2 linked regions of the Homo sapiens genome follow. The protein of the gene in region 1 interacts with the protein of each later gene in a biochemical or structural test. Each region holds a gene or a part of one and is shown in the gene's direction. Other genes may lie near its edges.

Region 1 (3,752 bases):
GACTACAAGCAAATGTGAACCCCACAGCCTGCTAACAAAGCCTAAGGAGCTATGGAAACAGGGAGGGCATTTGGCAGCCTGTGAATTTTGAAAAAGATTTCAGGACATCTCTAGTAATCATTAACATTTTAGCTACAATGTGAGGTCGAAGTGCTGGCTCAGAATGTGGCGCTGCAGCCTCCAAGAATCTTGCAACGGCAGCAGTCCGGGATCATGTTCGGCCTCTGATTTCCTGCTAGATTTACTGGTTCTGGCCACAGCAGAGTATCTTTATCTCTCTAACCATTTTTATGTAAAATAAGATTGTTTGGAGCCCTTTCAGGGCCACGCCTTAGAATTGCTCTGAGAGTACCAAGTGCCTGATTTCTTAGAGTCCTTACCAGTAGGAGATGTTGGCTGTTGATTTAGCTGCTGAGTCATGGGGCTGGGGATAGTGGTTTTCAGTAGCCAAAAACGTTAGTGTGTTGCTGGTGAAATCACAAACTCTGCTTGCAAAATTTTACTCTTTTTTTTTTTCTTTTTGCTGAATTTAATCCTAAAGTTCTTGCTTCTTACTCACTGGAAAGCAAATACTATGGTCTCAATAGGCCTTAATTTTTAACCAACGCCATGGAAACCTGTCTGTAGCTAAGAGGATAAAAATGCTAGGGGTTAAGGAAGAAAAGCAGGTTTTGCAGCTGACCAGAAGAAATAATTAAATTCAAGTACATATTTGAACACCTCTTTACAAGGAAATGAGGAAAATCAGATGTTTTAGTTCTCTTACAGACCAGCAGTAATGTTGAAAAATATAAAAGTAGCCGTAACAGAAAACGAAGTGATCATCTCAGCCCTCCCTTGGAGTGGGGGGATATATTGCGGAGCTGAGTTTTAATGGCTATCAGTTCTTGATCAGAAAAGTGAAATCACTCCAACTCCTTCCGTATTCCACGGAATATGACCCGTCTTGAACTTTGAGAAATTCCCCGGGTCTGTGTGAAATTCCAGTTCCAAATAATTCACATGAATGGTTCACAAGAATCCAGGTAGGTTTGATCTAGTTCCCTAGATGGGAATGAGAGGGATGTAAAATTTGAGAGGCAACATGACATGGACTAGAGAGAGAATGAATTAACACTGGGGAAGCACGTGGGGGCGCGCCGGACACCTAGAAGGCACTCAAAAAGTATGAGGTAGAATTAAAGGAAAGTGAACCTTCCTTTGGCTGTCTCGGCCTGATTCTCACCGCAGCAAGGAGAAAGGGACAGGGTCACCTTGGCGGGTGCCAGGCGGAGCCCGGCCAGACGGGCGCGGCTGGAGGGCAGCGCGCAGGCGCAGGCGGCGCACGTGGCCCCGGACACGCAGCGCTGCGGCGGGGCCAGCGCCCCAACCCCGGAGTGGGGCCGAGGCGCGCAGCCTCTCAACGACTCGACGCCAACGGGGTCTCTCGGATCGCGGCGCGAGGCAGGAGGGGCGGGGCAGGAGGGCCGCGGCAGGCCCGGGCCGCCAAAGTTGTCAGCAAGGTCGAGGGCCGGACGTGGGGCCCCAGAGCGACGCTGAGTGCGTGCGGGACTCGGAGTACGTGACGGAGCCCCGAGCTCTCATGCCCGCCACGCCGCCCCGGGCCATCCCCCGGAGCCCCGGCTCCGCACACCCCAGTTCGGCTCACCGGTCCTATCTGGGGCCAGAGTTTCGCCCGCACCACTACAGGGCCGCTGGGGAGTCGGGGCCCCCCAGATCTGCCCGCCTCAAGTCCGCGGGACGTCACCCCCCTTTCCACGCTACTGCAGCCGTCGCAGTCCCACCCCTTTCCGGGAGGTGAGGGAATGAGTGACGGCTCTCCCGACGAATGGCGAGGCGGAGCTGAGGGGGCGTGCCCCGGAGGCGGGAAGTGGGTGGGGCTCGCCTTAGCTAGGCAGGAAGTCGGCGCGGGCGGCGCGGACAGTATCTGTGGGTACCCGGAGCACGGAGATCTCGCCGGCTTTACGTTCACCTCGGTGTCTGCAGCACCCTCCGCTTCCTCTCCTAGGCGACGAGACCCAGTGGCTAGGTAATGATTGGGGAAGGGCTGAGCAACGGGCAGGCGGCGCAGGGCTTTTCTGGGCTTGTGGGGCTCTTTTCCCTCCGAGGGAGGCGGCGCGCCCGCAGGCCCAGCGTGGCGGGGTCGGGGGCACGTGCAAGCCGCCTCCCTGGGTGGGAACTGGCGCCCCCGCTCACCCCGAGGCCCGGGGCGGGGGCGCAATGCCAGGCGCACGTGCTGGGCCCCCGATTTCTTTGGAGGGGAAAGTGCAGATCAACACGTGATTACCGACTGCGGGGCCGAGTCACTGTCAGGGAAGGTCGGGAGCTGCACACGCGAGCTGCTTAGCACAGCGGGAGTTGGGAGTGGAAGTTGCTTTTCCATCGTAGCCAAGTGTAAGGTTTTTGGGATAGACGCAGACTTAGCGGCGGTGGCCACTCAGGCCAGGCCCTTCCTAAAATGGAGGAGGGCGGCGATAGTGGAGATGGCCACGAGGCTGCGGCCCCCTCCCCCACCGGTAGCCCCCGCCTCTCGCCCGCGCTCGCGGCCCGCGCTTCTGCCTAGTAAGCGGTGACTCATTTAACTCCGAGAAGGCACCTCTTGAGGAACCTACAGCAGAGCCGTTAGATCATTGGCAAGTCCTCCAGGCGACCTCGCCCAAGTTGGGCAAGAGCGGCTCCCCGGCTGGCCACCAAAAATCGGGCCTGATCTGATTTGGTTTTTTTTTTTTTTTGAGTTTTGCTATTGTTGCCCAGGCTGGAGTGCAATTGCGCGATCTCGGATCTCGGTTCACCGCAACCTCGGCCTCCTGGGTTCAAGCGATTCTCCTACCTCAGCCTCCCGAGTAGCTGGGATTACAGGCATGCGCCACCACGCCCGGCTAATTTTGTTTTTTTTTTGTTGTTGTTGTTGTTTTAGTAGAGGCGGTGTTTCACCATGTTGGCCAGGCTGGTCTTGAGCTCCCGACCTCAGGTGATCCGCCCGCCTCGGCCTCCCAAAGTGCTGGGATTACAGGCGTGAGCCACCGCGCTAGGCCAAGAAGGATGTATTTTAAGAAAGCTTCCTGTTCAATGTTCCCCTGCTCTGTGCGCTTCTCTGGGCGGTAGGGTCCATTGCTTCACTTGCCTTTCAGGCCCACCCGGGCCCTGACTGCTCCATTCATTTACCGTGTCCCTAATTCGGGGTTCCATCCAGGCAGCTAAAAAAGCTGTGAATGGTCCGGGCGCGGTGGCTCACGCCTGTAATCCGAGCACTTTGGGATGCCGAGGTGGGCCTCCTCAGGATCACCTGAGGTCGGGAGTTAGAGACCAGCCTGACCAACGTGGTGAAACCCCGTCTCTACTGAAAATACAAAAATCGACCAGGCGCGGTGGCTCACGCCTGTAATCCTAGCACTTTGGGAGGCCGAGGTGGGTGGCTCACGAGGTCAGGAGATCGAGACCATCCTACTCTACTAAACCCCATCTCTACTAAAAATACAAAAAATTAGCCGGGTGTGGTGGTGGGCGCCTGTAGTCCCAGCTACTCTGGAGGCGGAGCCTGCAGTGAGTCGAGATCGTGTCACTGCACTCTAGCCTGGGCGAAAGAGCGCGACTCCGTCTCAAAAAAAAAAAAAAATCACCTGGGCGTAATGGCAGGCGCCTGTAATCCCACCTACTCGGGAGGCTGAGACAGGAGGCTGAGGTTGCAGTGAGCCAAAATGGCGCCATTGCACTCCAGTCTGGGCGACAACAGCGAAACTCCGTCTCAAAAA
Region 2 (3,752 bases), about 160 Mb from region 1:
CAAGCAATTCTCCTACCTCAGCCTCCTGAGTAGCTGGGATTATAGGCATGTGCCACCATGCCCGGCTAATTTTGTATTTTTAGTAGAGACAGGGTTTCACCATGTTGGTCAGGCTAGTCTCGAACTCCTGACCTCAGGTGATCTGCCGACCTCGGCCTTCCAAAGCACTGGGATTACAGGTGTGAGCCCTCCCTGTACATGGCCATGAGGTTCATTGACTTTCAAGACCTTCAGCTGACCTCTGGTTTATAGACCCTAAAGGTAAAAGACAGAAAGGTACAGGAATGCTTGGAACAAAAGATCTGTTTCAAGGCCAGATCTAGGGAAAAGGGGGCATTCTGGAGGCTGGAATATAAGTCTAGGTATGCTTTTTTGCAGGAGTGGCAAGAACTAGGTGTGAAGGTTTGGGTAGAGAAGCTTAGTGAGGCTGAGTGGACAAAGGTAAGGCCTGAGAAGGCAGCCTTTCTGTATTCCACCTGCAACTCAAATTGTTACCACCACTTTCTTGATCATGTATTAATAGTTGTTATGTAGAAAAAAATTCCTTATAATCATAGAAATCACTTGTTTATACATACACATAATATGACATATTTTACTACATAACTATTACTACAAAGTTATATATAACTTTTTCTTCTCTGGGCTTATATAAATTTTCATATATATACATATATAAATTTTATGTATATATAATAGTTTTTGAAAAGTAGAAAAAAAATACAATTAGCCAAGTGTGGTGGCTCACACCTGTAACCTTAGCACTTTGGGAGGCCGAGGTGGACAGATCACTTGAGGTCAGGAGTTTAAGACCAGCCTGGCCACTGTGGTGAAAACTTGTCTCTACTAAAAATACAAAAATTAGCCGGGTGTGGTGGCGGGCACCTGTAATCCAGTTACTCCAGAGGCTGAGGCAGGAGAATCGCTTGAACCTGGGAGGCAGACGTTGCAGTGAGCCAAGATCACGCTACTGCACTCCAGCCTGGGTGACAGAGCGAGACTCCATCTCAAAAAAATATATATATTACATATAATACATATAAATATATATAATTATATATATAAATTTATTATATATATAATAAAATACATATATAATTTACTAGAAGATAAATTAGAGTTGGTTATTACTGTCACAAGAGAAGGACTGCTTTGTTTGTTATTTAGCCCCTGCTTTGGACTGGTCTCCTGTTGAACAGAGCCTGGAAGAGGGCTTGTGTGCAGTTGGTTTATATGGACCATGATCCTAGAGAAGAGAAGTTGAGACAGGGGAAAGTGAGACAGGGAAGGCAGGAAAGCCACAAAATGGGGGCCTTCTCCAGCTAGTCACCACAGTGGGCAATGGAGGCTCAATCCCATCAAGCCCTTCAGAGGGGCTGTGTAGACTGCAACAGAAGAGGGGAGGTTTACGCATGGATCTGATACCCTCTTGGCCAAGGGCTATCCCATGGAGTATATTGCGCTTCCCTGATACTCAGATGTGGGGACGAGGTTTGTTCTTGCAGACTGATTTTTTTTTTTTTTTTAAGATGGAGTCTTTCTCTGTCCCCCAGGCTGGAGTGCGGTGGCACGATCTTGGCTCACTGCAACCTCCGCCTCCTGGGTTCAAGCAATTCTCCTGCCTCAGCCTCCCGAGTAGCTGGGATTACAGGTGCACACTACCACGCCCAGCTAACTTTTGTATTTTTTTTTTTTTCCAGTACAGACAGGGTTTCACCATGTTGGCCAGGCTGGTCTTGAACTCCTGACCTCAAGTATCCACCCATCTTGACCTCCCAAAGTGCTGGGATTACAGGCATGAGCCACGGCGCCTGGCCTGTTCTTGTAGACTTTCTATGCAGAAAGTCAGAGAAGCTGGGCCACGGTGGCTGAGGCGAGGTCCCCGCAGGTGATAACTGCAAGAGGCAGGTTGCCTCAGCAATGACTGCAAAAAAGTGGGCAGGATGTGAGGGGAGGGTGAGGGGAGAAACCTGAGGTGTTCAACACAAGTGCTGCAGATTCCCTTTCCTCACCTAGAATAGGATGGGGATGAGAATCCCTCATGGGAGTCATCATGCAAATTAGCAGTCACACAGGGAAGCACCCAGTGCAGCGCTGAGCAGTGGCCACCCAGTGAATAAAATATAACTAGAAAGGCTTATTTTACTTGAGTTCCACTATTGTTTTTGTTTTTTGTTTTGTTTTGTTTTTTGAAGATGGAGTCTCGCTCTATCACCAGGCTGGAGTGCAGTGGCGTGGTCTTGGCTCACTGCAACCTCCACCTCCTGGATTCAAGCAATTCTCCTGCCTCAGCCTCCCAAGTAGCTGGGATTACAGGCACACGCCACCATGCCCGGCTAATTTTTGTATTTTTAGTGGAGATGGGGTTTCACCATGTTGGCCAGGCTGGTCTTGAACTCCCGACCTCGTGATCCACCCGCCTCAGCCTCCCAAAGTGCTGGGATTACAGGCATGAGCCACTGCACCTGGCCAGGGTTCCACTATTGTTTTAAAGCATCATTCAATAATCAATATGTCAACATGTGCATAACATTTTAATAACATGCGTTGATTCTAGAGACAGTACAAGTTAGAGCAGTACTCAGGACAATAGTCTATTAGCTAGTCTTCACTTTCCTAAGATGTTTCTGACAACCTGTAGATAATTAGGCATAGCTTGTTTTACTTCATTCCTTTCATTTATGTAATATGGACTGAACTTTCCAGTGATAGAAAATATCTATGAAAATTATTACAATGCCTATGTCTACAGGCAAACGAGTTAATAAATTCAGTTTCCGGGTTGAGGTCTCTAAAATGCCAAGTCTATAAAGAAGCGACGGCAGAGAACACAGAACATTTCCAGAATTTTGTAATAGACATGAACCTTTAAACCACAGAAGGACTGAATTTAACATTTTAAAAAACCTAGAAAAAAAACAGCTGGGCGTGGTGGCTCACGCCTGTAATCCCAGCACTTTGGGAGGCTGAGGCAGGCGGATCACGAGGTCAGGAGTTCGTGACCAGCCTGGCCAATATGGTAAAACCCTGTCTCTACTAAAAATACAAAAATTAGCCAGGCGTGGTGGCAGGCACCTGTAGTCCCAGCTACTCAGGAGGCTGAGGCAGAAGAATCACTTGAACCCAGGAGGCAGAGGTTGCAATGAGCTGAGATCATGCCACTGTACTCCAGCCTGGGTGACAGAGCGAGACCCTGTCTCAAAAAAAAAAAAACAAAAAAAAAAACCTTAAAAAATAAAAGCCCCAAAAATGCTAACTATCTGACACAGTACAGCCCTTAATATTTTCACAGTCTCTTTTTGGTTTTCCTCCACATTCACAATGAAATGTTAGTGATTTTAAAACATTCCAGAGAAATTTTAGTGTTGACACATCTTTATTGAGGGCCATTTCATTTATAGTTACTTATGTAATCATCCAAACAATTCAGCTCAGCATACTGGGGCTCAGAGAGGTGGAGTCATTTACCCAAAGTCACACAGCTGGGACATGGCAGAGCTGAACTAGGAGCTATGACTTCCGGCTTAGGTCCAGGCCCCTTTACGAGATTGTTTCCCTGCCTTTGGGTTTTGCATCCTCTATTCTGGGCTTCCACCCGCATGCCAGATGGCTCTATTCCTGGAGTCTGACCATTGCCAGATGCTCCTGGCTGACATGACCTAGAAGAAGCCAGCAGGCTCATAACTTAACCATCGCCCCTGCCAAATGGGAACTGGCCTTGCCGTCATCCTGGAAGCCATTCCCTGACATTT

Evidence for each region.
Region 2: the proteins of ENO1 (region 1) and MYOC interact in far-western blotting, tested with the Homo sapiens proteins (one study listed by BioGRID).

The regions. Positions count from the first base shown.
Region 1 is NC_000001.11:8,876,857-8,880,608, reverse strand, and holds the start of ENO1 (alpha-enolase), read left to right. Parts: upstream 1-1,922; 5' UTR 1,923-2,029; intron 2,030-3,752. UniProt on the Homo sapiens protein: Glycolytic enzyme the catalyzes the conversion of 2-phosphoglycerate to phosphoenolpyruvate. In addition to glycolysis, involved in various processes such as growth control, hypoxia tolerance and allergic responses.
Region 2 is NC_000001.11:171,645,963-171,649,714, reverse strand, and holds part of MYOC (myocilin precursor), read left to right. Parts: intron 1-3,752. UniProt on the Homo sapiens protein: Secreted glycoprotein regulating the activation of different signaling pathways in adjacent cells to control different processes including cell adhesion, cell-matrix adhesion, cytoskeleton organization and cell migration.